Regions from separate parts of the Homo sapiens genome. Here all the other regions are linked to region 5. Evidence: fine-mapped expression QTL. A gene starts in region 5. Each other region holds a variant in brackets. All regions are shown on one strand. Distances are between the middles of the regions. Region 1 has its middle 22 kb from the start of SCART1. Region 2 overlaps LOC105378575 (a long non-coding RNA gene). Region 3 overlaps LOC105378575 (a long non-coding RNA gene). Region 4 has its middle 18 kb from the start of ADGRA1-AS1. Region 5 holds the start of SCART1 (scavenger receptor family member expressed on T cells 1). Region 6 overlaps MTG1 (mitochondrial ribosome associated GTPase 1).

Region 1 (5,313 bases), 23 kb before region 5:
TGCTGAGACTCTCTGGGACCTGTCCCCTTGCTCGCTGTCCTGCTGAGACGCTCTGGGACCTGTCGGCTTGCTCGCTGTCCTGCTGAGACTCTCTGGGACCTGTCCCCTTGCTCGCTGTCCTGCTGAGACTCTCTGGGACCTGTCCCCTTGCTCGCTGTCCTGCTGAGACTCTCTGGGACCTGTCCCCTTGCTCGCTGTCCTGCTGACACTCTCTGGGACCTGTCCCCTTGCTCGCTGTCCTGCTGAGACGCTCTGGGACCTGTCCGCTTGCTCGCTGTCCTGCTGAGACTCTCTGGGACCTGTCCCCTTGCTCGCTGTCCTGCTGAGACTCTCTGGGACCTGTCCCCTTGCTCGCTGTCCTGCTGAGACTCTCTGGGACCTGTCCCCTTGCTCGCTGTCCTGCTGACACTCTCTGGGACCTGTCCCCTTGCTCGCTGTCCTGCTGAGACGCTCTGGGACCTGTCCGCTTGCTCGCTGTCCTGCTGAGACTCTCTGGGACCTGTCCGCTTGCTCGCTGTCCTGCTGAGACTCTCTGGGACCTGTCCGCTTGCTCGCTGTCCTGCTGACACTCTCTGGGACCTGTCCGCTTGCTCGCTGTCCTGCTGAGACTCTCTGGGACCTGTCCCCTTGCTCGCTGTCCTGCTGAGACTCTCTGGGACCTGTCCGCTTGCTCGCTGTCCTGCTGACACTCTCTGGGACCTGTCCGCTTGCTCGCTGTCCTGCTGAGACTCTCTGGGACCTGTCCCCTTGCTCGCTGTCTTGCTGAGACTCTGGGACCTGTCCGCTTGCTCGCTGTCCTGCTGAGACTCTCTGGGACCTGTCGGCTTGCTCGCTGTCCTGCTGAGACTCTCTGGGACCTGTCCGCTTGCTCGCTGTCCTGCTGAGACTCTCTGGGACCTGTCGGCTTGCTCGCTGTCCTGCTGAGACTCTCTGGGACCTGTCCCCTTGCTCGCTGTCCTGCTGAGACTCTCTGGGACCTGTCCCCTTGCTCGCTGTCCTGCTGAGACTCTCTGGGACCTGTCCGCTTGCTCGCTGTCCTGCTGAGACTCTCTGGGACCTGTCCCCTTGCTCGCTGTCTTGCTGAGACTCTGGGACCTGTCCGCTTGCTCGCTGTCCTGCTGACACTCTCTGGGACCTGTCCGCTTGCTCGCTGTCCTGCTGAGACTCTCTGGGACCTGTCCCCTTGCTCGCTGTCCTGCTGAGACTCTCTGGGACCTGTCCGCTTGCTCGCTGTCCTGCTGACACTCTCTGGGACCTGTCCGCTTGCTCGCTGTCCTGCTGAGACTCTCTGGGACCTGTCCCCTTGCTCGCTGTCTTGCTGAGACTCTGGGACCTGTCTGCTTGCTCGCTGTCCTGCTGAGACTCTCTGGGACCTGTCGGCTTGCTCGCTGTCCTGCTGAGACTCTCTGGAACCTGTCCGCTTGCTCGCTGTCCTGCTGAGACTCTCTGGGACCTGTCCCCTTGCTCGCTGTCCTGCTGAGACTCTCTGGGACCTGTCCGCTTGCTCGCTGTCCTGCTGAGACTCTCTGGGACCTGTCCCCTTGCTCGCTGTCTTGCTGAGACTCTGGGACCTGTCCGCTTGCTCGCTGTCCTGCTGAGACTCTCTGGGACCTGTCGGCTTGCTCGCTGTCCTGCTGAGACTCTCTGGGACCTGTCCGCTTGCTCGCTGTCCTGCTGAGATTCTCTGGGACCTGTCCGCTTGCTCGCTGTCCTGCTGAGACTCTCTGGGACCTGTCCGCTTGCTCGCTGTCCTGCTGAGACTCTCTGGGACCTGTCCGCTTGCTCGCTGTCCTGCTGAGACTCTCTGGGACCTGTCCCCTTGCTCGCTGTCCTGCTGAGTCGCTCTGCGACCTGTCCGCTTGCTCGCTGTCCTGCTGAGACTCTCTGGGACCTGTCCCCTTGTTCGCTGTCCTGCTGAGACTCTCTGGGAAAGTTTGCTGTTGGCAACTTTGCTGCAGAAAGCACATAATTAAGATGTTAACATGGGTCCCTGCGCCCAGGGAGAATCAGAGCATTAACCCTCCACTCTGCGAGGGAGTCAACAAGCCCAGCGTCACTCACCCCCGAGGACAGTGCTCCCTGCCGGCCTGCAGCGGGGCTGGCATCACAGTAAATAACAAAAATGCAGCAAGAGCCTCTCATTGCTTTGATTTTAAACATTTCCTCCATTATTCCAGCACACAGAAGCTCGTGGTGTGCAAGTGTGTTTGGCCCCCGAGGCAGGTGGAGACCACATCAGTGACCTGGGCACAAGATTCTGGGTCGCGGAGAAGGAAAACCACCCAGCAGGCATGGGCTTTATGGAGAGTTAGCGTCAGGACAGCACAGGTTTCACCTGCAGAGGCTGTGAGGGGCACTCTCCAAAGGGAGGCATGTGGGGACATCAGGGCAGTGAGTGGCTCCAACTACCACCAGGCCAGACTCCAGCTCTTTTGGCCAGGTGACCTCAGCTGTCAGATTTCAGCTGTAGGTTGACCTGGCCACAGCTCCTTAGTAGAAACCATGACTGCGGCCCTACCTCAGCCACCCCAGGCCGCTCCCTCAGGAGGGCAGACTCCATGCAGAAGCGGGCATGGACTGGCCATTCCTGTTCCTGGTCTGGGTGGGAGGTTTGTTCCATCAGGGGGTGTCAGGCTGTGTCCGAGACTGGATACAT[C/T]AAAGAAAGGCACAGACCCAGCCTCGGTGCAGCCCCTAATCCAGTGCCTCCACTCAACCAACCTCACATACCTCTCCCACCACCCATCTCTGACCACCTAGCCTCCTCGGGCAGGACAGGCCCAGCCCAGGGCAAGGAGAGGCGGCTTAGTCAACATCAGAGGAAACAAGGCCAAACCCACTTCCTTCCCAGCCCAGGAGGCACCCAGCCCAGGTAGTCTTCAACCCAGGCAGCCTTCAGCTGCAGTCCTCAGCCCAGGCAGTCCTCAGCCCAGGCAGTCCTCAGCCCAGGCAGTCCCCCCAGCCCAGGCAGTCCCTCAGCCCAGGCAGTCCTCAGCCCAGGCAGTCCCCCCAGCCCAGGCAGCCCTCAGCCCAGGCAGTCCCCCCAGCCCAGGCAGTCCTCAGCCCAGGCAGCCCTCAGCCCAGGCAGTCCCCCCAGCCCAGGCAGTCCCTCAGCCCAGGCAGTCCTCAGCCCAGGCAGCCCTCAGCTCAGGCAGTCCCAAAGACCTCCTGGCTGCCCAGTCTGAGGCCCGAAATCCATCCTCCATCACAGGAGCCCCATTTGCCTGTGAAACCAAGGGCAGGTGGAGCCTTGCACCAGATTCACAGGAAGCTTCCAGGCCCCTCTTACAGATCCTGATCTGCCTTAAAGGCCAAACCACGGGGCTCCGGCTTCTTGCTCACCTGATCGAGGGCACAGATAGGGCACAGTGCAGGCCCACAGAGGTTCCCAGGCACTTAGAGTTTCAAACGGAAACCCTCAACACAACAGCAAAGCAATTTCAGCAACATTTTTTCCACATTAATGTAGGTCAGGGCAGGGTAGAATCAGATCTGACTTTTCAAAAACATTGAAAGGAAAATTAGGTGGGTCATCCATGTGGAAGGCAGGCATGGAGGGTTGCAGCCACTCACTGAGTGAGGAGTGTGGCTAGGCCAGCTCCTGTCTAAATGGGAGCCCACATGTCCATGGACATGATGGTGCCTCAAGGCTGACGCCCGTCTCTTCCCAGTCAGTGTCTCCTGTGTTTGATGCTGACCTTTGAGTGAAGTCTGTCCCCTCGGGGTGGATGCTGAGGTTGCTACAGAGGCCCACGTGTCCCCAGGAGCGGCTCTCAGGGAGCAATTACCCCACTCGGAGGTAGAAAGGGGTCCCCATGGGAACCGCCCCCAGGCTCGAGCAGAGACAGGCCAGGGCACCTGCAGGGCTTCTGGGTGATGGACCTGGGGAGATCAATTCCAGAGCTGGTGGCTTCTCCCCAGCACCTCTGCCCTGGGCACACAAGGGCCATGTGCAACCCTCCCTGCAGGAGGATGGAATTTTATTTAAATAGACTTAATCTTTTAGAATAGTTTTAAATTTGCCCCCACCCAGTTTCCCGTTACTGACATCTCCCATTAGCATGTGTTACATTAATGTGCCAGTATCGATCCTATACTGTCAACTGCAATCCATGGCTGATTCCCAGTTCCTCCGTGTTCCCCTAACGTCCTTCTGTCCACATCACAGTTAGGAGTTTCCTTAGGCTTCTCTTGACTGCAGCATTTTCTCAGACTTTCCTTGCTTTTGATGAACTTGGTAGTTTTGGAGAATATTGGCCAGGTATTTTGTATCTTCCAGGTATTCCCTTGACTGGGATTCGCCTGATTATTTTTTTACTCATGATGAAAGTTACGGGTTTTGGGGCGGAAAGACACAGAGGCACGTGACATTCTCATCACACCACACCGGGATGCACACTGTCAGCATGTCTGGCTGTTGATGTGAACTCGGGAAGGTAAATATTTTCATCACAATTCTTATGTGCCCATCCAGACGCTGAGGTGGCCTGCAGTGTCCAGGGAGACACTGTCCTGACTTCAAGGATGGAGCATCCAAAGGGTCTGAGGAGACTAAGAGTCTTCTGGCAGGCTGAAGCCCAGACCCCCACTCTGCACTCAGCAGGCCTGGCCACGTAGATGAGGCATTGTGAGCCCATGGGGGTTGACTCACTTCCTTGTTTGGGCCAAAGGCCCACAACTGATTGGTAAAGCAGTGTAGGTGGTCACAGCAAGTGCCCACAGGTAGAACTGAGATGATAATTGTGCTCAGGAGAAACCTAGCAATTTATCTTAGAGACCAAGTGCAGAAAATAAGACATGGAGAAAACAGTCATTGCAAAAGAACCAGAGACGTGGCCATGGCTGATTTAAAGTGCTTCTTAATTTCATCACAGGAAGACAACTGGCCCCTTTAATTTTCCAAACCTTCTAACATCCTTCAACTCAATCAATCGGCACATGTTTTTAATCTCTGGCCAATGATTATCTATTTTCCATGACAGTATATGTAATAGCATTTCAGCAACCCAAGATTTGAACACTTCCTCTAATTTATTCAAATGTGTTATAACCTTCAGCTATGCCGGATTTTCCTAATCAAACACACCACTTTTCTTTAAAAATAATGTTGATTTATAAAAACATTCAGTATCAAAGGTCACTGCAACACTGATTTAAGGTTATTTCATGGCCCACAATAAGTAACCATATTTGTAGCATTTAAACCTCAAAATCCAAGCTAAGTGGTAAGATGTGGGAGCACCTGCTACATACCTGGAATTGTCCTAGGGCTACGGGGATCCTCAAAGCCCAATGAGAGTCCCTCATCTTCCAACG
Region 2 (5,313 bases), 44 kb before region 5:
GATATTCCTCCTAAGGTGAAGGATAAGTTGCTGCATTTGGCCCCTCCTACAACCAAGAAAGAGGCACAATGCCTAGTGGGCCTATTTGGATTTTGGAGGCAACACATTCCTCATTTGGGTGTGTTACTCCAGCCCATTTATTGAGTGACCTGAAAAGCTGTCAGTTTTGAGTGGAGTCCAGAACAAGAGAAGGCTCTGCAGCAGGTCCAGGCTGCTGTGCAAGCTGCTCTGCCACTTGGGCCATATGGCCCAGCATATCCAATGGTGCTTGAGGTGTCAGTGGCAGATAGGCATGCTGTTTGGAGCCTTTGGCAGGCTCCCATAGGTGAATCACAGTGGAGGCCTCTAGGATTTTGGAGCGAGGCCCTGCCATCTTCTGCAGATAACTACTCTCCTTTTGAGAGACAGCTCTTAGCCTGTTACTGGGCTTTGGTGGAAACTGAACGTTTGACTGTAGGTCACCAAGTCACCACGCGACCTGAACTGCCTATCATAAACTGGGTGCTTTCTGACCCATCTAGCCATTAAGTGGGTTGTGCACAGCAGCATTCCGTCATCAAATGGAAGTGGCACTAGGGAAATGACCACAGGATGGAAGTGGTATATATGTGATCAGGTTCCAGCAGGTCCTGAAGGCACAAGTAAGTTACATGAGGAAGTGGTTCAAATGCCCATGGTCTCCACTCCTGCCACCCTTCCTTCTCTCCCCGAGCCTGCCCCAACGGCCTCATGGGAAGTTCCCTATAATTAGTTGGGCCTGGTTCGTGGATGGTTCCGCATGATATGCAGGCACCACCCAAAAGTGGAGAGCTGCAGCACTACAGCCCCTTTCTAGGACATCCCTGAAGGACAGTAGGGAAGGAAAATCTTCCCAGTGGGCAGAACTAAGAGCAGTGAACCTGGTTGTGCACTTTGCATGGAAGGAGAAATGGCCAGATGTGTGATTATATACTGATTCATGGGCTGTAGTTAATGGTTTGGTTGGATGGTCAGGGACTTGAAAGAAGAATGATCGGAAATTGTGACAAAGAAATGTGGGGAAGAGGTATGTGGATGGACCTCTCTGAGTGGTCAAAAACTGTGAAGATATTTGTATCCCATGTGAGTGCTCACCAATGGGTGACCTCAGCAGAGGAGGATTTTAATAATCAAGTGGATAGGATGACCACTTCTGTGGACACCATTCAGCCTCTTTCCCAAGCACCTCTGTCATTGCCCAATGGACCCGTGAACAAAGTGGCCATGGTGGCAGGGATGGAGGTTATGAATGGGCTCAGCAATATGAGCTTCCACTCACCAAGGCTGATCTGGCTATGGCCACTGCTGAGTGCCCAATTTGCCAGCAGCAGAGACCAACACTGATTCCTCGATATGGCACCATTTCTCAGGGTGGTCAGCCAGCTACCTGGTGGCAGGTTGATTATATTGAACCTCTTCCATCATGGAAAGGGCAGAGATTTGTCCTCACTGGAATAGATACTTATTCTGGATATCGGTTTGCCTATCCTGCACACGATACTTCTACCAAGACTACCATCTGTGGACTCATGGAATGCCTTATCCACCATCATGGTGTTCCACACAGTATTGCCTCTGACCAAGGTACTCACTTTACGGCCATAGAAGTGCAGCAGTGGGCTCATGTTCGTGGAATTCACTGGTCTTACCACGTTGCCCATCATCCTGAAGCAGCTGGATTGATAGAACGGTGGAATGGCCTTTCAAAGTCACAATTGCTGTGGGTGGCAAGCCACCCAGGTGCCAAGGCAAGAGACCGAGGACACGAGCTGTTCCAGTATAATAAAATATAAAATAAGAATAGTTATACCAGAGATAGATCTTAGATATGATTATATATGAATATCATTAATCATTAGTAGCAATTACTCTTTATTCCAATATTATAATAATCCTCACTCTATAATCATAAACTAGGAAAAACCAGGCCATACAGAGATAGGAGCTGAAGGGACATAGTGAGAAGTGACCAGAAGACAAGAGTGTGAGCCTTCTGTTATGCCCAGACAGGGCCACCAGAGGGCTCCTTGGTCTAGCGGTAACGCCAGCATCTGGGAAGATGCCCATTGCCAAGCAGACCGTGGTCTAGCAGTAGCGTT[A/G]GTGTCAAGGAAAAACACCCGCTACTTAGCAGACCGGGAAAGAGAGTCTCCCTTTCCCCAGGGGAGTTTAGAGAAGACTCTACTCCTCCACCTCTTGTGGAAGGCCTGACATTAGTCAGGCCCACCCACAGTTATTCGGAGGCCTAACCGTCTCCCTGTGATGCTGTGCTTCAGTGGTCACACTCCTAGTCTGCCTTCATGTTCCATCTTGTACACCTGGTTCTGCCGTTTAGTTAGCAGTAGCAAATTAGTGAAAGTACTAAAAGTCTCTGATAAGCAGAAATAATGGTGTAAGCTGTTTCTCTTTCTCCTCTCTCTCTCTGCCTCGGCTGCCAGGCAGGAAAGGGCCCCCTGTCCAGGGGACATGTGATCCATGTGGCCTTCCCTATCATTGGAGATGGCCCACACTCCTTATCCTGCCCCTTTGTCTTGTATCCAATAAATATCAGTGCAGCCTGGCATTCGGGGCCACTACCAGTCTCCGCATCTTGGTGGTAGTGGTCCCCCGGGCCCAGCTGTCTTTTCTTTTATCTCTTTGTCTTGTGTTTTTATTTCTACGCTCTCTCGTCTCCACACAGAAGGAGAAAATGCACCAACCCTGTGGGGCTGGACCCTACAATTACCATGTCAATTAGATGACAATACTTTGCAGGGCTGGGGCAAAGTACTCTAGAAGGCTGTGTATGCACTGGATCAGCATCTGATATATGGTACTGTTTCTCCCATAGCCAGGATTCACGGGTCCAGGAATCAAGGGGTGGAAGTGGAAGTGGCACCACTCACCATCACCCCTAATGATCCAGTAGCAAAATTTTTGCTTCCTGTTCCTGCAACATTACGTTCTGCTAGCCTAGAGATCTTAGTTCCAGAGGGAGTAACACTGCCACCAGGAGACACAACAACAATTCCATTAAACTGAAAGTTAAGATTGTCACCTGGACACTTCGGGCTCCTCCTACCTTTAAGTAAACAGGCTAAGAAGGGAGTTACAGTGTTGGCTAGGTTGATTGACCCAGACTATCAAGATGAAATCAGTCTACTACTCCATAACAGAGGTAAGGAGGAGCATGCATGGAATACAGGAGATCCATTAGGATGTCACTTAGTATTACCATGCCCTGTGATTAAGGTCAATGAGAAACTACAACAGCCCAATCCAGGGAGGACTACAAATGGTCCAGACCCTTCAGGAATGAAGGTTTAAGTCACTCCACCAGGAAAAAAACCTTGATCTGATGAGGTGCTTGCAGAAGGCAAAGGGAATACACAGTGGGTGATAGAAGAAGGTAGTCATCAATACCAGCTACGACCACATGACCAGCTGCAGAAATAAGGACTGTAAAAAGTATTAACCCTAGGTGAGTCTGTGTGGGTGTTGCCAAAGGAGATTTGAGTCAGTGGGCTGGGGAAGGCAGACCCACCCTTAATCAGGTGGACACCATCTAATGAGCTTCCAGCAAATATAAAGCAGGCAGAAAAACATGAAAAGGCAAGACTGGCTTAGCCTTCCAGCCTACATTTTTCTCCCATGCTGGATGCTTCCTGCCCTCAAACATCAGACTCCAAGTTCTTCAGTTTTGGGACTTGGACTGGCTCTCCTTGGTCCTCAGCTTGCAGACAGCCTATTGTGGGGACCTCGTGATCATGTTAGTTAATATTTAATAAACTCCCATTTACATATATACATATATATATACATATATAATATTTATCCTATTAGTTCTGTCCCTCTAGAGAACCCTGACTAATACAGATTTTGGTACCAGGAGTGGGCTGTTGTGTTGCTGAAAAGATACCCAAAAATGTGGAATTGACTTTGGAATTGGGTAACAGGCAGAGGTTGGAACAATTTGGAGGGCTCAGAAGAAGATAAGAAAATGTGGGAAAGTTTGGAACTTCCTAGAGACTTTGCCCAAAATGCTGATAGCAATATGGACAATAAAGTCCAGGCTGAGGTGATCTCAAATGGAAATTAGGAACTTGTTGGGAAGTGGAGCAAAGGTGACTCTTGTTATGTTTAACAAAGGGACTGGCAGCATTTTTCCCCTGCCCTACAGACCTGTGGAACTTTGAACCAGAGAGAGATGATTTAGGGTATCAGGTGGAAGAAATTTCTAAGCAGCAAACATTCAAGAGGTGATTCAGGTGCTGTTAAAGGCATCCCATTTTATAAGGAAAGCACAGCATAGAAGTTTGGAAAATTTGCAGCCTGACAATGCAATAGAAAAAGAAAATCCCATTTTCTGGGGAGAAATTTAAGCCAGCTGCAGAAATTTGCATAAGTAACGAGGAGCAGAATGTTAACTCACAAGACAATGGGGAAAAGACATGCCTCTCCAGGGCATGTCAGAGGTCTTCACAGCAGCCCTTCTCATCACAGGCCTGGAGGTGTACAAGATAAAAATGGCTTCCTGGGCTAGGCCCAGGGTCCCCATGCTGTGTACAGCCAAGGGACTTGGTGTCCTGTGTCCCAGCTGCCCCTAGCCATGACTAAAAGGGACCAAGGTAAAGCTCCAGCCATGGCTTCAGAGGGTGCAAGCCCTAAGCCTTAGCACCTTCCACATGGTGTTGAGCCTGTGGGTACACAGAAGTCAAGAATTGAGGTTTGGGCACCTCCGCCTAGATTTCAGAAGATGTATGGAAATGCCTGGATGCCCAGGCAAAAGTTTGTTGCAAGCGCAAGGCCTTCATAGAGAACCTCTGCCACAGCAGTGCAGAAGGGAAATGTGGGGTCAGAGCCCCCAAACAGAATCCCTAATGGGGTAACCACCTATTGGAGCTGTGAGAAGAGGGCCACCATCCTCCAGACCCCAGGATGATAGATCCACTGATAGCTTGCACTGTGTGCCTGGAAAAGCCACAGACACTCAACACCAGCCCATAAAAACAGCCGGGAGGGAGGCTGTATCCTGCAAAGCCAAGGGGCGGAGCTGCCCAAGACCATGGGAACCCACTTCTTGCATCAGTGTGACCTGGATGCGAGATGTGGAGTCAAAGGAAATAATTTTGGAACTTTAAGATTTAACTGCCCTGATGGATTTTGGACTTGCATGGGGCCTGTAGCCCCTTTGTTTTGGCCAATTCCTCCCATTTGGAATGGCTGTTTTTGCCCAATGCCTGTACCCACATTGTATCTAGGAAGTAACTAACTTGCTTTTGATTTTACAGGGTTGTAAGCAGAAGGGAGTTTTCTTGT
Region 3 (5,313 bases), 54 kb before region 5:
TTGGAATTTTCTTTTTTGTTCCATTGTTATTCTTGGCTAGTTTCAAAAGAGGAGAGTATAATAAAAATGACACGCATCTACTATCATTAAACAGAAGTCTCCATACTACTTTCCGTTCTTTTATTTTTCAAAATCATCATATGTAAAATAGACTTCTTTTCCTTTGGTGTACAGATCTATGAAATATAATGCTATTATATGTATTATATATATTATATTTATAATATAGAGTATATTTATTATATTTATTGTAGTATATATTATATTTTATGTAACTCCCACCATAAACGGGTACAAAACAATTCCCTCAATGCAATTATTTATCAGTTCTAGTAGTTTTGATGTAGTCTTTATGGTTTTCTGTACGTAATATCATGTCATCTGCAAACAGGAACCGTATTATTTCCTCCTTTCCAATCTGGATGCCTTTTATTTCTTGCTCTTGCCTAATTACTCTAGCTAAGACTGACAGTAGTACTACGTTGAATGGAAGTGGTGAGAGTGGGCATCCTTGTCTTGTTCTTGATCTTAGATGGTTTGACGCTTGTCTATAGTGATATGCTTTGACTATTTTCTTCTTATCTTTTGTGTATCTACTACAGATTTTTGCTTTGTGGTTACTTGAGGCTTGCAGAAAACATCTTATGTTTATAACCAGCTATTTTTAAGCTGATAAAAGCTTAATTTTGATTGCATAAATAAACTCTACATTTCTACTCCCCCACCTCATATTTTATGCTTTTGATGTCACAATTTATATCATTTCATCATTTGTATCTCTCAACAGATTATTGTAGCTATGGTTGTTTTTAATTGCTTTATCTTTTAACCTTTGTACTAGAGATAGAATTGTTTTACAGAAGACCATTGCCTGATTACTAGTTTGAATCTGACAATGTACTTACTTTTACCAGTAAGTTTTTTATTTTTGTATTTTTATCCTATCAATTAGTATCCTTTTAATCCAGCTTGAAGAATTCCTAGAATTTCTTGTAAGGCACATCTAATGGTGATATCCTTCCTCGACTTTTGTTTGTTTGAGAAAGTCTTATTCTTGCCTTCATTTTTGAAAGATAGTATTACTAGGTATGGTATTCTTGGGCAGTAATTTTTTTTTCTTTTAGGATTTTGAATATATCATCCAGCTCCTTCCTGGCCTATAAAGTTTCTGGAAAAAGAAAATCCATGGATATCTTACACGGTGGGCATCCCTTTTGTGTAACTATTTGCTGTCCCTTGTTGCTTTCAAAATTCTCTCTTTGTCTAAATTTTTAACAATTTGATTATAATATGTCTCAAATGTGTGTCTCTGGATTTTTCCTATTTGGTGTCATCTGAGTTTCCTGAATCTTGATTTCAATTTATTTCCCTAAGCTTGGGAGGTTTTTCCCCATCATTTCTTTGAATATGTTTTGTGTCCCTTTCTCCCTCTCTTCCTCCTGGTCTACCAATTCTGAATATATTGTTCTGCTTGTTGAAGTCCTGTAAGCTATCTTTTTCATTCTTTTTACTTCTAGGATTGGATTATTTCCAATGACATGTCTTTAATCTCACTGGTTCTCTCTTTCACTTAATCTGGTCTGCTGTTGAACACCTCTACTGAATTTTTCAGTTCAGTTATTATATTCTTCAGTTTTATAATTTCTATTGGCCGCTTTTGAAATACTTTCTATCTCTTTTTTGAAATTATTTGTTTATGCATTTTTCTCCTGACCTTAGTGAACATCTTTATGACCATTATTTTGAATTCCTCATTGGGTAGATCATACATCTCCACTTCACTAGGGTTGGTTTCTGCAGATTTATCTTGATCTTTTATTTGGAACCCATTTCCCTGTTTTTCTATTTCCTTTGTTTCTCTGTATTAGTGTCCGTGCATTACATAAGACAGCAGCCTCTCCCAGTTCTGTCAGACTGTGAGACTCCCAGTTCTGTCAGTGTAGGAGAAGGCCCTCACCAATTGGTCCAGAGATTCTGAGGTGCCTCTTAAATCCTGGTTTGTCCAAACCACTGTCTCTGATTTTAGTGCCCCCCGACTGCCCACCGTAGAATTTTACAATGTGCCAAGTCCTGTCA[G/A]TGCCTTGAGATAGGTAAGATAGAAACTAGATGCAGTTGGAAAGATTGGAGTGTTAAATATATGTTCCAGTTTCTTCTTTGCTCAGGGTGAAGCTAAGAGCAAGAGTTTATCTCCCACTCTCTATGCACTATGTCAGAAGAAGGATCTGTGACAAGTGTCTGCATTTTCATGCAGAATGCACCCTCTGATAGTCACTAGAAGTTGGATTGTTGAATGTACACTTCTTTATTTTCTGTCGTCCACGGAGACTCAGAAATGCAGAGACCCACCAATTCCCAAAGTTAGGTGGTTAAGGAGGCACTCCTCCGGGTGGGAGCTGTAGAAGTTGTGGCACTTGGTGCACAAACTACTTCTAAAAGGAATCTACAGAGCTGGTTTTATCACTGGGGTGAGGTGGAGGGAAAGGCTTGGGAAGTGCCTGAACTCTCATTCAGAATCCTGGAGGTCTATCGTTTGTCGGCCCTGTTGGCTCCCAGATGCAGGCTAGATAGGAGCCTGATCCTTAAGCAGTAACTGGAAAATTGTGCAGACTAACCCCTTCCAGGGAGAAACTGGAAGGCGTGTATTTAACCTCTTGTCTGCATTGGTCCTTGCGGGTGTAACTCCTATAAGTGCTTGCATGCCCATTTTTTTTCTTTCTTTTTTTTTTTTTTTTTTTTTTTGAGACGGAGTCTCACTCTGCCGCCTAGGCTGGAGTGCAGTGGTGCAATCTCGGCTCACTGCAACCTCCGCCTCCTGGGTTCAAATGATTCTCTTGCCTCAGCCTCCCGAGTAGCTGGGATTACAGGCATCCGCCACCACACCCGGCTAATTTTTGTATATTTAGTAGAGACAGGGTTTCACCATGTTGGCAAAGCTGTTCTCGAATTCCTGACCTCAGGTGATCCACCTACCTTGGCCTCCCAAAGTGTTGGGATTGCAGGCGTGAGCCACCGCGCCCAACCTTGCCTGCCCATTTAAAACTACCTCTTTGTACCGTAATCTAGGGAGACTAGCAAATGCCAAGACGCTTTCATTCCCAGAGTTAGACAGTTTAGGATGCAGTCTTTTGGGTGGGAGCTGTAAAAGTTGGGGCAGTCAGTGTGTGGACAAACCTCTTCCAGAAAGAATGGGTAGATCTGGATATATCACAGGTGAACCACAGGAGAGGAGAAGGCTTAAGATGTGCTGAGCTACTGCTTAGCCTCCCGGAGGGCTATACACTAGTCCCCCTTATCCGTGGGTGATACAGTCCAAGACATTCTGCAGATTCCTGCAGCTGTGTATGGCACCAAACCCTATATATACTGTGCTTTGTTTCCTATACATACCTATGATGAAGTTTCATTTATAAATTAGGCACAATAATGAAGGAAACATAATAACTAATTATAAAATAGAACAATTATAACAACATATGGTGATAACAGTTATTTAAAACTTACAAACTGTCTATTTCTGGAATTTTCCGTTTAATATTTTCAGACTGCAGTTGGCCATAGTTAACTGAAACTTTGGAAAGAAAAACCATCAATAACAGAGGAATATTGTAGTTTGTCAGCCCGGTTAACTCCCTAATTCAGGCTAGTTAGAAGCTCTGCTGTTAGCAGAAGTTGGAGGAGTATACCAACAAACTCCTTTTAGGGTTTTGCTACTTTGTTCTGTGGTCTAGGGAGACTTGTGTATGCCTAGTCCCTTCCACTACCAGAGCTAGGTGAATTAAAAGTCAAACCATGGGAACCTTGGAGCTAGGGTCATATACATGTGGTCCATACCCTTCTCTCCTCAGGGAGAAGTTATGTGTTGGGAGTTTTTCCTGGTTTATGGTGCAGTACCCAGGGTGATATTTGTGCCTGCGTGTGCCTCAGCTTTTTCTACCTGCTTGATGTGAATATTTTCTCAGTTGTCTGCTGTGTAAGAGACTCTCAACTTTTTCTGACTTTCTCTCAAAGAAAATTTATCCATGTGTAGGTGTTTATTCCACGTGTCCATGGGTGGAGGGAGAGGTAGAAGTCTCCTGTGCCACCATGTTGCTGATGTCACCTCCCAGTAAAGTTTTCTAAAACAAATTACTTGACCATAAAGCCCAGAACAACAAGAAGTGAATCAAAATAAAACTTAGACAATGGGGTTTTCTAGAAATACAATCATGTCATCTGCAAACAGGGACAATTTGATTTCCTCTTTTCCTAATTGAATACCCTTTATTTCCTTCTCCTGTCTAATTGCCCTGGCCAGAACTTCCAACACTATGTTGAATAGGAGTGGTGAGAGAGGGCATCCCTGTCTTGTGCCAGTTTTCAAAGGGAATGCTTCCAGTTTTTGCCCATTCAGTATGATATTGGCTGTGGGTTTGTCATAGATAGCTCTTATTATTTTGAAATACGTCCCATCAATACCTAATTTATTGAGAGTTTTTAGCATGAAGGGTTGTTGAATTTTGTCAAAGGCTTTTTCTGCATCTATTGAGATAATCATGTGGTTTTTGTCTTTGGCTCTGTTTATATGCTGGATTACATTTATTGATTTGCGTATATTGAACCAGCCTTGCATCCCAGGGATGAAGCCCACTTGATCATGGTGGATAAGCTTTTTGATGTGCTGCTGGATTCGTTTTGCCAGTATTTTATTGAGGGTTTTTGTATCAATGTTCATCAAGGATATTGGTCTAAAATTCTCTTTTTTGGTTGTGTCTCTGCCCGGCTTTGGTATCAGAATGATGCTGGCCTCATAAAATGAGTTAGGGAGGATTCCCTCTTTTTCTATTGATTGGAATAGTTTCAGAAGGAATGGTACCAGTTCCTCCTTGTACCTCTGGTAGAATTCGGCTGTGAATCCATCTAGTCCTGGACTCTTTTTGGTTGGTAAGCTATTGATTATTGCCACAATTTCAGATCCTGTTATTGGTCTATTCAGAGATTCAATTTCTTCCTGGTTTAGTCTTGGGAGAGTGTATGTGTCAAGGAATTTATCCATTTCTTCTAGATTTTCTAGTTAAGCTGATAAGCAACTTCATCAAAGTCTCAGGATACAAAATCAATGTACAAAAATCACAAGCATTCTTATACACCAATAACAGACAAACACAGAGCCAAATCATGAGTGAACTCCCATTCACAATTGCTTCAAAGAGAATAAAATACCTAGGAATCCAACTTACAAGGGATGTGAAGGACCTCTTCAAGGAGAACTACAAACCACTGCTCAAGGAAATAAAAGAGGATACAAACAAATGGAAGAACATTCCATGCTCATGG
Region 4 (5,313 bases), 380 kb after region 5:
GGCCCCCAGCGGTTGGGCCCCGGCTGTCTGGTGACTGTGGTGTCCGGCCCCCTCGGCAGTGTGCACCGTGCGCCATCTGTGCCTGGTGGTGATGGACGTTGCCCAGAGAAGCACATCTGGATTTCAGCCGCGAGTGGTTCCCGTGGCCTCGCATCTGCCGGGCAGGTGCCCCTTCCTGGGTCCACTGCGCCCCCCTTAGAGGCTGGGGTGTCTTCACTCAGATCCGAGATTGCAGAACAATGGAGGAGTTGATCTCTGAAATTGCTCCTTGGGCCTCCTAATAGGTGACTAGGTGACTGGCCTGTGCGGATGGGCGAAGTCCCACGGAGGATGTGAGCCGGGTGGGCGGCCCCAGAGGAGAGACAGGCACAGAAATAGCTGTGGCTCAAGTCACCAGGGACAGGCACTCGCCTGAGGCAAAGGAAGGGAGGAGCAAGCAGGCAGGGTGTCCTGGAGGAGGCGGCTTTGAAAGATGAATAGGAACCAAGAGGAGAGGAGAGAAGTCGTGGGAAGGGCCCAGGGCAGAGTGACGAGGAACGCCAGCGAGTCAGTGAGTGGTGAGGGCCTCAGGGCCAGCTCCTCCGAGCCTCAAAGGCCAGCGGGCAGAGATAGAGAGAGAAATGAGGTCAGAACAGAGCTTCTGGTCGGGCGCAGGGCCTCACACCTGTGATCCCGGCACTGTGGGAGGCAGAGGTGGGAGGATCACTTGAGTCCAGGAGTTCTAGGCCAGCCTGGGCAACATAGCAAGACGCCATGTTTACATAATAAAAGATGGAAAGATTCGCCAGGCGTGGTCGTGTCTACCTCTATTAGCAGCTACTCCGGAGGCTGAGGTAGGAGGATCTCTTGAGCCCAGGAGGTTGAGGCTGCAGTGAGCTGTGATCGCCCCACTGCACTCAGCCTGGGTGAGAGGGTGAGATCCTGTCTCTAGAAGAAGAAAAGCTGTGCTCTCAAAGATTCCCCAGTGCAGGGTGAGCTGCTGGTGGAGAGGAGCCTGGGGCTGCGGGGAGACCTCCTCGGCACAGGGAGGTCAAACATCCCAGGGCGTGGCTTCACCTCTGCCCCCTGACTCTGCAACCCAGGGCCCCCCGACTCTGCAACCCAGGTCCCCCCGACTCTGTACCCCATGGCCCCCTGACTCTGCACCCCAGGGCCCCCTGACTCTGCACCCTGTGGCCCCCTGACTCTGCACCCTATGCCCCCTGACTGCACCCCAGGGCCCCCTGACTCTGCACCCTACGCCCCCTGACTCTGCACCCCCGGGCCCCCTGACTCTGCACCCTATGGCCCCCAGTCTCTGCACCCTACGGTCCCTGACTCTGCAGTATGGCCCCCTGACTCTGCACCCTGCGCCCCCGACTCTGCACCCCAGGGCCCCCTGACTCTTCACCCTATGCCCCCTGACTCTGCACCCTGCGCCCCCGACTCTGCACCCCAGGGCCCCTGACTCTGCACCCTATGCCCCCTGACTCTGCACCCTATGGCCCCCTGACTCTGCACCTTACAGCCCCCTAACTCTGCACCCTACGCCCCCGACTCTGCACCCTACGGCCCCCTGACTCTGCACCCTACGGCCCCTTGACTCTGCACCCCAGGGCCCCCTGGCTCTGCACACTACGGCCCCCTGCCCTCCCACGCCTGCCCTGGGCAGAGGCGGGCGAGGTTCCTCACACTGCTCCAGGAAAACATGGACATCCTCTGTAAACACAACAGAACGCCAAGTACATCTCCCAGTGCTTCTAGAAAAACGTCGGCCGCCTTCCCACCCCTTCCTTCGCTCCATTGAGGTCACTCATGGGACAGGGTTGGTGTGAGCACCCCAGAGGCCTGCCTGAGACCTGCTGACGGCCCCTCGGCCTCCCCGCCAGCTTCCCAGCTGTGGGTCCCAGGGTCTGAGGCCTCCCACAGCAGCTGGCAGGAGCTGGAACCAGGCCCGGGGCGGCCGATCCGCGGGGGTTGGGCCAGCGAAGGGCACGATGAGGTTTCTCCAAAGGTCCTTGTGCGCCATGACCACACGGAGCCCTTGGGGCCGGCCTCACTCAAGACATAAGTGAATGTGTTTATTGGTTTTGGTCTGAAACAGATGAAAAGCCACCAAAGGGTTTTGCAATAATTAAAACCCAGCCACGCCGGCCGCAGGTGCTGTTTGAGAGGCGGCATCCACAGAGAGGAGCTCTCTCCTGTCTCCCCACAGAGCCCGAATCTGCTTCTGCATGAGAGACAGGAGGCTGTAATTGCAGAGTTAATTAAAAGAATAAAGTGATGACAGCCCCAGGGGCTGCAGAGAACTCAGGGAAATGGCAGATTTGGGACTCAGGGCCCAGGCTCAGCTGCACAGTTGGGGCCACAGGC[C/T]GGGATTTGGCCCCCACACACCCAGGGGGAGGCTTCTCTGAGCACTGGAGCTGCCCAGAGCACCGGGTGTGCCGGGAGCCCGGGCAGATGGCGGGGCCAACCCTCATCTCAGGGCCAGTCCTGGTGGCAGCCAACGGGGACCTCACACCAGCGTGATCTGAACAGGGTCAGCACTTGCCAGCCACCTTCGGGTGATGTGGGGCAGACCCCTGGGTGGCTGTTCCCAGGACACAGAGAGCTGACAACCCACGGAGCAAAGAGACCCCTTCGTGCACCCCAGCGCCGGCTCACTCTCAGCCGAGTTCTCAGGGCTTCTGCTGCGCCATGCTGTGGCCAGGGGAGGGCGGGGCCTCTCGTCTGTGTGACCATGGATGCTTGGACTGGATACTTGCCCAGGTACAGGTGCCCTGCCCCTTGGTGCAGAACATTCTGGAACCTCTCCCAGCTTTCAGCCAATGGGCTAAGAAGCCGCACAGCCCTCCCATTGCAGAGCAAACCCACAGCCAGCCAAGGTGTGAGGTGCAGCCAGCGTCGTGGGGCCAAGTGGAGCCATTTTGTGAAGGCCAAGAAGGTCCAGTGTCCACCTGCCAGGCTGTGCAGGAGACCAGGGTGCCCCTGGCCTCTGCCCCAATGGCTTGATGCCGCTGCCTCCCTCCACCCAACCATCTGTCCCTGAGCGAGCCTGGCCCAGGGTCATGGCCAGCACTTGATGAGTGAAGGCGGCTGGGGGTGGGAGCAGGGGGCTCCGGGAGCAGGCTTTCTAGCACACATGACACGTGTCTGCTGCTGTGGCCAGCACAGTGCTGGGGATGGGGGTGGGGCAGGCAGGCAGGGGCTCACAGCTCTGCTCTTCACTGTCCCAGGAGGAAGGTCCAGCATCTCCCAGGTGGTCCCACTGCAGCACATCCCAAGCTAGGACGGGGAGAAGCGGCCCAGTCCCCACCCCCTGGCCCGCACCAGGCCACAGCACCCTGAAGTGTGGGGCAAAGCCTCCCGCTGTGTATCCGCGTGCCCATGTGTCCATGCGTCTGCCTGTCTGTGTGTGTCTGTCTTTCACACACACCCACGCTGACCGGCTCCTGCAGGCTCTGGGAACCGCAGGCATTTCGGGACTGTTCTGTCACTGCCTTTTGCATCCTTATTCAGTAATGGCCATTTTTAGAAACAGCACTAAACCTTTCATTTCTTTACATAAAACCAGAATAATTTTCACAAAGTAGTTGAGGAAGTCCCAAACACATTTGTTTTGTTAACCTAATTTGTATATTTATGATACTTAACCTCATTTAAGAGAAAGTTACTGAGAAAACATTTGTTCTCACAGTTTTCTCCTCCCTTTCTCAGTGGTTTCCATGAAGCGAGCTGCTCTGGCGTCTGAACCCAGCGTCTGCGCCTGCACAGTGCGGTCTTCTGAGCCCAGCTGCTGCCGCGGAGTCCCCCCCTCTAGAGTCCGGCCTGAGCTCTGATCCAGGAGGAGGGAACGGAAAACCCTCCTCCAGCTCCTCTGCTTCTTTGTTACTTATCAGCTAATGTTTCTTTGCGGGGAGCTTAAAACATGATTTTGTTCCTAATATTTCATCCAGTTTTGGAATTTCTATAGAACAACTTCTTTATGATGTGGATCCGTAAATGTCCGCCCCGTGTGTCAGTATTCACAGGCATAATGAATTCCGGGGAAAAATAAATGCTTAAGGCTGGACCGCTGCTCCTTGGAACCAGCCTTCCTCTTTTTTTGAAGGTGAAACCATCCTGTGTTCCTTTCCCTCTGTTGCCCTGTCCATTCTCCAGCCATCTGTTTGTTCGTTCTTCCTCTTCTTGTCCATGCCTGCCAACCACCACCCACCTATCCCTGCACCCACCCATCCACCCACTCATCCATCCATCCCCCACCTACCCCTCCACCCCTCCACCCCTCCACCTCTCCACCCATCCACCCTCCACCCATCCACCATCCACCATCCACCCATCCACCCATCCACCCACTCATCCATCCATCCCCCACCTACCCCTCCACCCCTCCACCCCTCCACCTCTCCACCCATCCACCCTCCACCCATCCACCATCCACCATCCACCCATCCACCCATCCACCCACTCATTCATCCAACATCCATCCATCCATCCACCAACCATCCACCCATCCACCCTCCCCCATCCACCATCCACCCATCCACCCATCCATCCACCCATCCACCATCCACCATCCACCATCCACCCATCCACCCATCCACCCACTCATTCATCCAACATCCATCCATCCATCCACCAACCATCCACCCATCCACCCTCCCCCATCCACCATCCACCCATCCACCCATCCATCCACCCATCCACCATCCACCATCCACCATCCACCCATCCACCCACTCATTCATCCAACATCCATCCATCCATCCACCAACCATCCATCCATCCATCCTCCCCCATCCACCCACCCATCCATCCACCCATCCACCCTCCCCCATCCACCATCCATCCATCCACCCATCCACCCACTCATTCATCCAACATCCATCCATCCATCCATTCCCCACCTACCCCTCCACCCCTCCTCCCCTCCACCCTCCACCCATCCACCCACTCATTCATCCACCCATCCACCCTCCACCCATCCACCATCCACCCATCCACCCACTCATCCATCCACCCATCCACCCTCCATCCATCCACCATCTATCCACCCATCCACCCTCCCCCATCCACCCACTCATCCACCCACTCATCCATCCATCCATCCATCCACCCACCCATCCACCCACTCATCCACCCACTCATCCATCCATCCATCCATCCACCCACCCATCCACCCACTCATCCACCCACTCATCCATCCATCCATCCATCCATCCACCCATCCATCCATCCATCCATCCACCCTCTCATCCATCCACCCGTCCACCCTCCATCCATCCACCATCTATCCATCCCTCCATCCACCCATCCACCCACCCATCCACTCAC
Region 5 (5,313 bases):
CCTGTCCTCCTGGGTCTGCAGCTGGGTGGGTCCTCCCACCCACTCTCTGCCTCCCAAGCATCATTCCCCTACTTCCACTGGAGGCCCTGTGGTCTCCAGCCCACCACTGTCACACCTGCCCCACCCACGTGACTGTCCACACCCCTTGGAGTGCCCCGCTCACCCTTCGGTCCTGTCCTCTGCAACCCTGAGTATCCAGGAAAACCACCCCTGCCTGCCCTCCCACTATGCCAAACCCAGCCCCACTACCCCACCCATACCGGCTTCCAGGCAGGATCTCACCCTCCGGTCTCTGAGCATCTCAGCTACTCCAGCACCTTCTCTCCCACCCGCCACGGAGGCACCCCTAACCACCCTCTCCAGGCCTCTGCAACCCCACATCAACACAGCCACCCCGAGGAAAATGAAGCAACCAGTAGGAGGAAGTCCATGTGGGTGGTGCTGTGTGGTCCCAGAGCAGCCTCCAGGGCCCCTGGAGGACTCTCCACACCCAGAAAAGAGCCTCCCCGATGGCAGTCAGGAGCAGAGGGGGGACCCTGCCTGGTCCAAGATGAAGACCTTTCCCTCCCACCTCCTGGGGAGCCTTGAATCTCCTCTCTCTCAGTCTTCATCCATCCCTCCACACCCCCCAGCCTCCTCATCACCCTCCCCACCTGGTTCTTCTCAGGACATGGATGCGTGCTGGTGTCTGCAATTTTTTCTTTTTTAGACAAAAGTCTCGCTCTGTCACTCAGGCTGGAGTGCAATGGCACGATCTCAGCTCACTGCAATGTCCACCTCCAGGGTTGAACTGATTCTCGTGCCTCAGCCTCCCATGTAGCGGGAATTATAGGCGCCCACTACCACGACTGGCTAATTTTTGTATTTTTAGTAGAGATGGGGTTTCACCATGTTGGCCAGGCTGATCTCGAACTCATGACCTCAGGTAAACTGCCTGCCTCAGCCTCCCAAAGTGCTGGGATTACAGCCATAAGCCACCACGCCCGCTATGAATAGCTTTTCATTTTATATTTTCTAAAGCTATTTCTTGTTGTAATAGAGAATTCCGGCCCTTGTGCATGCGATCGTTGACACAAAAGCAAATCCCTTCAACCCCAGGCTTCCATCCATCTGTGGCCACATTGCTGCCTTTCCTTCAAATCCTAACCTCCTCTGCACTTTCTGCAGCTGCCCACAGACTTCCACCCCACCGCTGGGGATGTGGCTCCGTCCAGCACCAGGTCACCGCCCTGCTGGGCACCTGGACCAGCCTTGACAGTGAAGTGTTCCTCAGCCTCAAGGGCACCCTCCCCTGCCTCCCGCCCAGCCCCACACTCACATCATGGCTCCATGCCCACGTACGCAGGTCCCCGGGGCTCCCTCTCACCTCCAGCCTCTCCTGCTGTTCCTTCTAGCTAGACCCCCCTCTCTACACCTCCCTGCCCCTGACCCAGCAGCCCTTCCACATGGCTTCACACCCCAGTGTCTCCACCTGGGTGCAGCATCTCCATGGGACCCCATGCTCAACCTCACTGCCAGATGCAGCCAACCCTCCCACCTCCTTCCCAGGACCTCAGCCCTGCTCCAGGGCACGTGGATGGAGCAGCCCCCGCAGGACCCCTCAGGACTCTGTTGATCAGGGTCATTGGGACCAGACACTGGGCCGTGTCCCTCATTTTGTCCAGGGCCTGACCCAGCCCTGAACCCTGGGTTCCAAGCAGTGGGGCTAGGGTCTGGGGGCCCTGAGGTCACAGGGATCCAGCCATGTGGAGTCACCTCCCTCCTGCCCCAGCATGTCCCACCCACTCTGGGCTGAGTGAGACCCAGGCAGACGGCAGGTCACTGCAGGGACCCTCATGCCCCGGGGCCTGGGCATCAACAGAGCTGATGCCTCCAGAAAGTTCCATGGATGAAGGAAGCAGAAACTTACCAATGGGGACTGCCCAGAGATTCAGAAGAAGGGGCCCGAGTCCCAGGGTCCAGAGAGCTGCCCTCATGGTCCCACAGCCCTCTGGGCTTCAGCAAGCTCTCGCTGCTTAGCTGGGGCAATGGCAGAGGTCACAGCCCAGAGTCACATATACAGAAGTGGGAGCTGCCAAGGACCTCCAGGGTCCAATGGGGACAGCCACAGCCTTTCCAGAGCGAATCAGCAGCTCTGCCTCTCAGCCGTGAGCAGAGCAGCCAATGCCTTGCTGGCCTGAGCATCACCAGACATGGGGAGGGTGCAGGCTGTGGGTTTCCTCCCACACTGATCAAGCTGCTGATGGGACTAGACCCAACCATCAGGCAGAGATGGTCCAACCTGCCCACAGCACAGCATCAGTGAAGCCCTGCGTCTCTGCCCTCCACCCGGGCCCGTCGGCTTCAGCCATGCCACCACCACAGAAGGCAGTGGCCCCAGACAGCCAAGGAGGCGTCCTCTGTGCCAGCAGATGGCACTAGCAGAGTTAGGGGTAGGGGTAGGATTAGGGTTTGAGTGGGAGTCCCAGCAGCACCAGAAGAATGACACGGAAGAGCTTTGCAAGAACTCTGAGAACTGAACTGTCGTTGGAATGAAAACCCTTGAGAGAAGATACAGTTAAGAATCACTCATCATATGAAGACCCAGGGACACGACCATTTCAGTAAGAGACAACCAACTAAGGGCGGCACCAGGAAGAGTCAGGTGTCAGAATTATCTGACAAGGATTTTAAAACAGGCATCATAAAAATGTTTCCACAACAAATTGCAAATGCTCTTGAAATAAGTGGAAAAATTGAAATCTCAGCAAAGAAATAGAAGTTATAAAAATGGAACAGGCTAGGCGCAGTGGCTCACGCCTGTAATCCTAGCACTTTGGGAGGCTGAGGTGGGCAGATACCTGAGGTCAGGAGTTCGAGACCACCCTGGCCAACATGGTGAAACCCTGTCTCTACTAAAAATACAAAAATTAGCCGGGCAGGGTGACATGCACCTGTAGTCCCAGCTACTCGGGAGGCTGAGGCATGAGAATGGCGTGAGCCCAAGAGGCGGAGGTTGCAGTGAGCTGAGATTGCACCACTGCACTCCAGCCTGGGTGACAGAGCAAGACTTTGTCTTAAAAACAAAATGAAACAGTGGTAAGGATGTAGAGAAATGGGACCTCTCAGATTTTGCTGGTAGATTCAAAAATGGTGCAACTGCTTTGAGAAAGTTTGGCAGTTTGTCAAAATGTTAAACAGAGATACTCCTGGAAGATACCACTTGAGCCCAGAAGGGGCAACTCCACTCTTGGGTACATATCTAAGAGGAATGTAAACTTATGTCCACACAAAAATCTCTACATGAATGTCCATGCAGCATTATTCATAATAAAGATGAAAACAGCTCACGTGTGCATCCACTGATAAATGGAGAAACAAAATGCGGTATGTCCACATTATGGAATGTCACTCAGCCATAGAAAGGGAACAAGGCACCCACACAGGCTGGATGTGCGTCAACCTTGAAAACATGCTCAGTGAGAGAAGCCAGATGTAAAAGACCACATACTGGGTACGATTCCATTCATATGAGATTTCCAGAATAGGCAAATCAATAGACAAGGAAATTAGATTCATGGTTTCCAGGGGCTAGAGAAGGAGGAAAGAGAAAATGACTGAAAATAGTATAGTGTTTTTCTTTTTTATTTTTATTTATTTATGTATTTATATATTCATTTATTTATTGGGAGACAGAGTCTCACTTTCTCATCCAGGCTGGAGTGCAGTGGCATGATCATAGCTCACTGCAGCCTCAACTTCCTGGCCTCAAGTGATCTTCCTACCTTAACCTCCTGAGTAACTGGGACTATAGGTGCATGCCACCATGTCTGGCTAATTTTTTAAATTTTTTTGTAGAGATGGAAAGCCTTGCCATGTACCCAGGCTGGTCTCAAACGCCTGGCCTCATCGGACCCTCCCACCTTGGCCTCCCAAAGTGCTGAGATTACAGGTGTGAGCCACCACAGCCAGCTACAGGATTTCTTTTTCAGGTGATGAAAATGTTCTGAAATTAGTGGTGCTGGTTGCATAATCCTGAATATACTAAAATCCTCTGCACCACACACTTTAAAAGAGTGCATTTATGATACATGAACCTCAATTAAATTGTTTTTAAAATAAATGATTACAGAACTGAAAATATAATAACTGAAATGTTAAAAACTCAATGAACGGACTAGTAGAATGGAAATGACAGAGGAACCAGTGAACCTGATGATACTTCAATAGAATTTACACAGTGCAAACAACAGAGAGAAAATAGAAAAATTTATAGAGCCTCGGGGATCTGTGGGACAATAATAACAAGACTTAATCTTTGTATCTGGGAAATTCAGGAAAGATAAGAGAGCGTATGGGGCTGAAAATGTATTTAAAGTAACAACTACTAAATATTCTCCAAATATGGTGAAAGGCACAAAACTACAGATTCAAGAAGCTGAGAAATCCAAAATAAGATGAATTCAAAGACATTCACACCAAGACACATCATAATTAAACGTTTGGAAACCAAAGGAAAAAAAAATCCTAAAAACAGCCAGACAAAAAGGATTGCACTGACTATAAAAAATGGTAAAATGTGAATTACAGCTAATTTCTCGTCTGAAATGGAAGCAAGCAGGAAGTGCCTTATTTTTAATTGACATGTAAGAATTGTACATATTTATGGGATACAGAGTGATACTTTGATACATGTGTGCAATGCATAATGATCGAATCAGGGTAACTACCAAACCCATCAAACATTTATCATTTATCTGTTGGGAACATTCAAAACCCTCTCTTCTAGCTATTTGAAAATACACAACAAGTTATTTTGAATTATAGTCACCCTACAGAGCTACAGAACACTGGAACTTATTCCTCTGTAACTTTGTATTTATTAAACAACCTCTCCCTATCTGCTTCTCCCCTAACCCTTACCAGTCTCTAGTAACTCTAATTCTACTCTACTAATATGAGGTCAATTTCTTAGTCCCGACATGTGAGTGACAACTAGCAGTATTGCAGTATTGATATTTTTGTACCTGATTTATTGCACTTAATAGAATGTCCTACATGCACACACTGCCACAAATGGCAAGTTTTTTTTTTTTTTTTTGAGATGGAGTTTCACTCGTGTTGCCCAGGCTGGAGTGCAATGGTGCAGTCTCGGCTCACTGCAACTTCCGCCTCCCAGGTTCAAGCGATTCTTCTGCCTCAGCCTCCCAAGTAGCTGAGATTACAGGCACATGGCACCACGACCAGCTAATTTTTGTATTTTTAGTAGAGACAGGGTTTCGCCATGTTGGCCAGGCTGGTCTTGAAATCCTGACCTCAGGTGATCCACCTGCC
Region 6 (5,313 bases), 33 kb after region 5:
CCACCTGCCCAGAAGAGTGGATCTCACAGCCCAGGAACATTCCCAAGCAGGAAAACCGTCCGTCCGAGGAACGTCCATCCTGGCTCTCTGCGGCTGGTGGGAAAACACACCCTGCCCTGAGGGGCTGTCCAGGCCTTCTCCCCCACACCCTCAGGCCGAGATCCGTGAGAGACCCACTTTGCTCCAACAACTTGAAACAAGTCACTTTACCCTCCTTAGGACCCATTTTGGGGGGGAAAAACCAACACATTCCAGAGCTTTCCAAGTCCTTTGAACTTCAGGTTCACATTCAGGGATCACACAGTTCTGCCTGTTCTCAGGGCACAGCAACTGCCAATCCCGCTGAAGAGGCCTCCCTGGGCACAGCACAGGCTGCACGGTGCACGCATTTCCCTGAAGGCAGCCCCTTCTTCGGAAGCAGCTGTTCCAGGCCTCGGAACAGGGCCTGGGTATCCGCGTGGTGGGCTGGCAGCTGACGGCCTGCTCAGTGGAGCCAGGAGCTAACTCAGACCCCAAAGCAAGCAGGGGGCCAGTGGCGGGGCCCAGCGCCCAGCAGGACACCCATGCAAGAGGCTGAGCCCCCCAACATCCAAGGACAGGAGAGACATGGAGTGGCGCTGGACAGTCACGACAAGGACTTGCCTCCAGCACTGGACACACCTGTGTTAAGACCAGCCCTCTGCTTCCCAGTCCCGCCAGCCTGGGGCATCCTCCATGGGCTCAGCACTGAGAGGTCTTGGGTCTGCCACGTTCTCTAGCTCTCCAGTCACCCACTCATCCAGGGTAGGAGGGGTTCTCCCTGCCCCCCGCCGTGGCCTTGGGATCTCACCCTCTCCATGTCCTGGGGACAGCCTCGCCCTCAGCCGGACTGCATCCCTCCTGGGCCTGAGCCTCGGGACTCAGTGGACACCAAAGTCAAGACCAGCACCCACCACGGGCCCTGCCAGCCTCTGCCTTCCCCAGCTGGCCTGGGTTCTGGCCTGGGTGAGGATCTGGAAGCTGTTGGCAGGACTCAACCAAGCACTGCTCTCTAGCTCCAGGGCACTAAGCCACAGGAGGCAGCGCCCTGCAGCCTCCCGTCCACACTGCCAGCAATGCCCCTGGCCCAGTGAGCCCAGACGCTCCTCCACCCCTTCCAGACCAAGCTCAACGCCTCCAAGACCAGCAGGCCAAGGCCAAGCCCTGCCCCAGATCCTCATAGGCAGAGAAGCCCTTCTGACATTTCCCCCAGGAGGCAGGGGGTGGTCTGAGTCTCCTCACAGCAGAGAGACCCACCGGAGCCCCCTCAACTTTGCAGATGCCCACCTGGAAAATGGGCTGAGCTGCACCAGACCCTCACACACCACAGCACTGCAAGCTGATGGAATGTTCCAGTTATGATGGACACTTCGTGATCTGCAATGACTGTTGATTCAGCACATTAGCATCTGACACAGCCAACCTGAATACTTCCTGCCCCAGGCGGTCAGGGTTATGGCACGATGCAGGTGGCACTCAGGGGCTAACTTCAGGCTGATGAGTGTGTGGGGTATGGGGCAGCAGAGGCAGCCAGCCAGCAAAGAGGGGCCACTGAGCACCAGGGCCCTGGTGGAGGCTGCTGTGGGACGGTCAGGCCACCACCGCAAAGAGGCAGCCGGAGCTTCTGCACAGGATGTCCCTGGCCCCAGGTCCTGCAGCACCTTAGTCCATACTACCAGCCCCACCCACCTTCCTTCCTCTTCCCTCTTCTAGGACACAGGCTGTGGACCCCTTCAGGTGCACTATAATGGGGCTGGAGGGGCCCCCACATCTCTCAGCCCCACTAATGCAGAATCCCACTACCCGTGAGCTAGAAGGTGCTCAGAGGCCAGGGGTCTCTACTGCCCATGCCGGGCGGCCTTCCAGTCATTGCACAGCAAAGCCATGTGCAGGGCGTCCCCCTCAACCCTGCCCTGAACATGCCCCAGGGCACTGAGGGGCGAAGCCAGTGCTTGGGCTCTGCTGCTGGGAGTCTCTGGTCTGTGTCTGTGTGTGCCTGTAAGTGTGAAATAAACCTCTCTGATGGCAGCAAGCCTCTCACTTGTTGTAGGACTGCAAGACACTGGACCGAAAGCCTCCAACACAAACCCTAGCTGCCAACCTGCTCATTTCTTAGGTTTCACTGGTGAGAGCAGCTTTAACACACAGGCCCAAGGCACTACGGTGCACCTCACAGGCCAGTAAGAAACAGGCCCTTTAACTGGAGATTTTAAAGGTTACAGGTTATAGCTTTAACTCCTTCTGAGACAGCATCCATTTCTCAAGAGGCCTGAGCAGGAAGCTCCGGGAGAACCAAGCATGCGGAGCTGCTCAGGGACGTCCAC[T/A]GGGAAGCCTGGTGTCCACTCCCACCTGCTTGGGCCCTGCAACTGGGGTCCCTGGAGCTGGCCAGGCTGTGGGGCGCCAGAGAGCACAGCACCCTAGTGACCAGCATGGAGCTTCTGGACCGGGTGAGCTGTCTTGAGCCTCAACCACCCAGGTCAGGAGGTCTGGGAGGCCACATGCCTCCGGCCCTCCCTACCCGGACAAGTTCAGGGCAAAGTCTCAGCCGGGGGGTGGCCCCGCAGGACGTCGAGGTCCAGCATCACGGAACCCAGCAGCCCACGGCGGAAAGTCTGCAGGAAGTCACGGGCTGCCGCAGGATAGTTAGGCTGAATAATGTTCACGTTACCTGGGGGACGGGAGGGTTCAGTGAGGAAGGAGCCTTCACAGCAGGACAGGCCCAGCCCTTACCCACCTGAGGGACCAGCCCTAAGAGGCTCCATGATGGCATCAGGGAAGCCCAGGGAACGGGATCACACTCAGAAAGAAAACAGCTTGAGCTACGCTGCCCGGAGCCTCCAAGGCCAGGCATGTGAGGCCTGCAGGTGTCCACCTAGCACTGCCCAATACGCGGCAGGGCTGGTCTCACCCTCGGAAGCCTGGACTACAAGCCCTTCCTCTCCAGAACTTTCTGTAGCTCCCCTGCCCTGAAACCCATTCCCAGAAGACCCGGCGCATGCTCCTTGACACGTTCCTCTCCTCCCTGCCTCCTCCAGGGATGGCCGGGGTCCCCCAGGGTGATGGGGTGAGGCTCCGGTGCCCGCATCAGCGACCTCACTCACCCGTGCCCGTGAGCACCTTCACCTTCTGCGTCTTCCCCAGCTTCACAGCCACACTCTTCAGCACGCGCTCTACGTTGTCACAGGCACTGCCCAGGCCGTAGTGCTGCACGTACCTGCACATAGGCTGCAGGTCAGCACCAGGGGGCCCAGCACTGACACCGCGCGGCCAGCCAGGCCGGGCCCTTCCTCCTGAATGCCACAAAGGCCACGGCCAGGCACCTCCTGTGGGTGACAGTGACTGCGGCGCTGTGGATGACCAAGATGAGACTGCAGGTGACCGGTGCTGGGCCCCGGGGGAGAGCCACTATCTAAGAATCATCCCTGAGCTTCGTCCTGTGTGGCCACGGCCAGCAGCATGGGGGGCGGCTCCCACCACCGGAGCCCTTGCCGCAGCGGGAGGAGTAACAGCTGTTCACACACACAGGCTTCATCCACTCTATCCGGGGTAGGACAGGCAGGCCTCTGTGCAGGCCCAGGTCCTGGAAACTAAAAGAGGAGCACAGCAGACCATCTGCAAACATACTCTGTTTGCTGCTAAGGATGGCACTCGGTAACTTCCAGGCAGCCAGTACACCTGCATCCTCTCCACCCGGCTGGGTGTTTGAGCGGTGTTTTCCTAGCACAGGGACCAGCATGGGCTGACTAGGCACCCACCGCTGCTAAGCGTCACCCAGTGATTGTAACGGGCACTCTGACTCCTCACAGTGCAGGCTCTGGGCAGAGAGGCCTGGAGGGAAAGGCCAGCACAGAGCAGCCACTCACAGGGACAAACACCACCCTAAGCCTTGGGAGCCCGACTAACCCAGACCCAACACTCTCCCAACCTTCCTGACAGCCAGGGGTGAGGGGAACCTGTCTCGTGGCTCCCACGAGGGCAGGCTCAACCTTGAGGAGGCTGGTGCCCTCGGACCTGGTCACAGCATGAGCCGGTAACAGAGGACTCACCCCAAGGCCCAGCAAAGCAAGACATGAGCTCAGAGCCCATAGGAGCATCAGAACCCTGAGTAACACAGGTTCTAAATCTAACTTCTCGGAGGCACCAAGCATGAGCTCTGAATCAGCAGCCTCAAGGGTGCCCTGGTGCTCCAAAAAAGCTGTCCCAGGAGAGAGGAGCAAGCCTGGAGGAGGCGCCCCGGACCACCCCCGAGACCTGCCAATGGGAAGAACTCCTGAAAGGACCGGACTGTTTCCAATAATCTAACTGTCCCACAACAAAGCTCAAGAATTTTTACAGGAATGTAGATATCCATCACCTAACAAGGTGAAACTCAAAATACATGGCATCCAGCCAGGCATGGTGGCTCACGCCTGTAATCCCAGAACTTTGGGAGGCCAAGGTGGACGGATCACTTGAGGTCAGGAGTTCGACACCAGCCTGTTCACCAATATGGTGAAACCCTGTCTCTACTAAAAATACAAAAATTAGCCAGGTGTGGTGGCACATGCTTGTAATCCCAGCTACTTGGGAGGCTAAGGCGGGAGAATCGCTTGAACCCAGGAGGTGGAGGCTGCAGTGGGCTGAGATTGTGCCACTGCACTGTAGCCTGGCTGGGCGACAGAGTGAGATGCCATCTCAAAAAAAAGAAAAAAAGAAAGTCATTGGTAGCTTGATGGGGATGGCATTGAATCTATAAATTACCTTGGGCAGTATGGCCATTTTCACAATATTGATTCTTCCTACCAATGAGCATGGAATGTTCTTCCATTTGTTTGTATTCTCTTTTATTTCATTGAGCAGTGGTTTGTAGTTCTCCTTGAAGAGGTCCTTCACGTCCCTTGTAAGTTGGATTCCTAGGTATTTTATTCTCTTTGAAGCAATTGTGAATGGGAGTTCACTCATGATTTGGCTGTTTGTCTGTTATTGGTGTATAAGAATGCTGGTGATTTTTGTACATTGATTTTGTATCCTGAGACTTTGCTGAAGTTGCTTATCAGCTTAAGGAGATTTTGGGCTGAGACAATGGGGTTTTCTAGATATACAATCATGTCATCTGCAAACAGGGACAATTTGATTTCCTCTTTTCCTAATTGAATACCCTTTATTTCCTTCTCCTGCCTAACTGCCCTGGCCAGAACTTCCAACACTATGTTGAATAGGAGTGGTGAGAGAGGGCATCCCTGTCTTGTGCCAGTTTTCAAAGGGAATGCTTCCAGTTTTTGCCCATTCAGTATGATATTGGCTGTGGGTTTGTCA

Evidence for each region.
Region 1: its variant is fine-mapped to the expression of SCART1 in whole blood (TOPMed, PIP above 0.99).
Region 2: its variant is fine-mapped to the expression of SCART1 in whole blood (TOPMed, PIP above 0.99).
Region 3: its variant is fine-mapped to the expression of SCART1 in whole blood (TOPMed, PIP above 0.99).
Region 4: its variant is fine-mapped to the expression of SCART1 in cerebellum (GTEx, PIP above 0.99).
Region 6: its variant is fine-mapped to the expression of SCART1 in whole blood (TOPMed, PIP 0.94).

Annotation. Positions count from the first base shown.
Region 1 is chr10:133,473,541-133,478,853 of GRCh38, reverse strand. No RefSeq gene overlaps it. Among named protein-coding and RNA genes, the nearest start is that of SCART1, 22 kb to the right of the region's middle. The variant C/T (reference allele first, on the strand shown) is at 2,657.
Region 2 is chr10:133,494,303-133,499,615 of GRCh38, reverse strand. The region is part of intron 4 of LOC105378575 (a long non-coding RNA gene); the gene reads left to right. Among named protein-coding and RNA genes, the nearest start is that of CYP2E1, 30 kb to the left of the region's middle. RefSeq lists a silencer at 2,014-2,093. The variant A/G (reference allele first, on the strand shown) is at 2,118.
Region 3 is chr10:133,505,101-133,510,413 of GRCh38, reverse strand. It overlaps LOC105378575 (a long non-coding RNA gene), which reads left to right. Exons shown (of 5, transcript XR_946512.3): 4 at 1,125-1,201. Among named protein-coding and RNA genes, the nearest start is that of CYP2E1, 20 kb to the left of the region's middle. The variant G/A (reference allele first, on the strand shown) is at 2,077.
Region 4 is chr10:133,065,770-133,071,082 of GRCh38, reverse strand. No RefSeq gene overlaps it. Among named protein-coding and RNA genes, the nearest start is that of ADGRA1-AS1, 18 kb to the left of the region's middle. The variant C/T (reference allele first, on the strand shown) is at 2,353.
Region 5 is chr10:133,450,661-133,455,973 of GRCh38, reverse strand. It overlaps SCART1 (scavenger receptor family member expressed on T cells 1), which reads right to left and starts at 2,029. Exons shown (of 12, transcript NM_001396050.1): 1 at 1,910-2,029. The coding sequence starts at 1,976. RefSeq lists an enhancer at 2,255-2,304.
Region 6 is chr10:133,417,399-133,422,711 of GRCh38, reverse strand. MTG1 (mitochondrial ribosome associated GTPase 1) reads right to left here. Exons shown (of 11, transcript NM_138384.4): 10 at 3,120-3,232; 11 at 192-2,686. The coding sequence ends at 2,547. It overlaps SPRN (shadow of prion protein), which reads left to right. Exons shown (of 2, transcript NM_001391974.1): 2 at 1-2,046. Among named protein-coding and RNA genes, the nearest start is that of SPRN, 4.6 kb to the left of the region's middle. The variant T/A (reference allele first, on the strand shown) is at 2,343.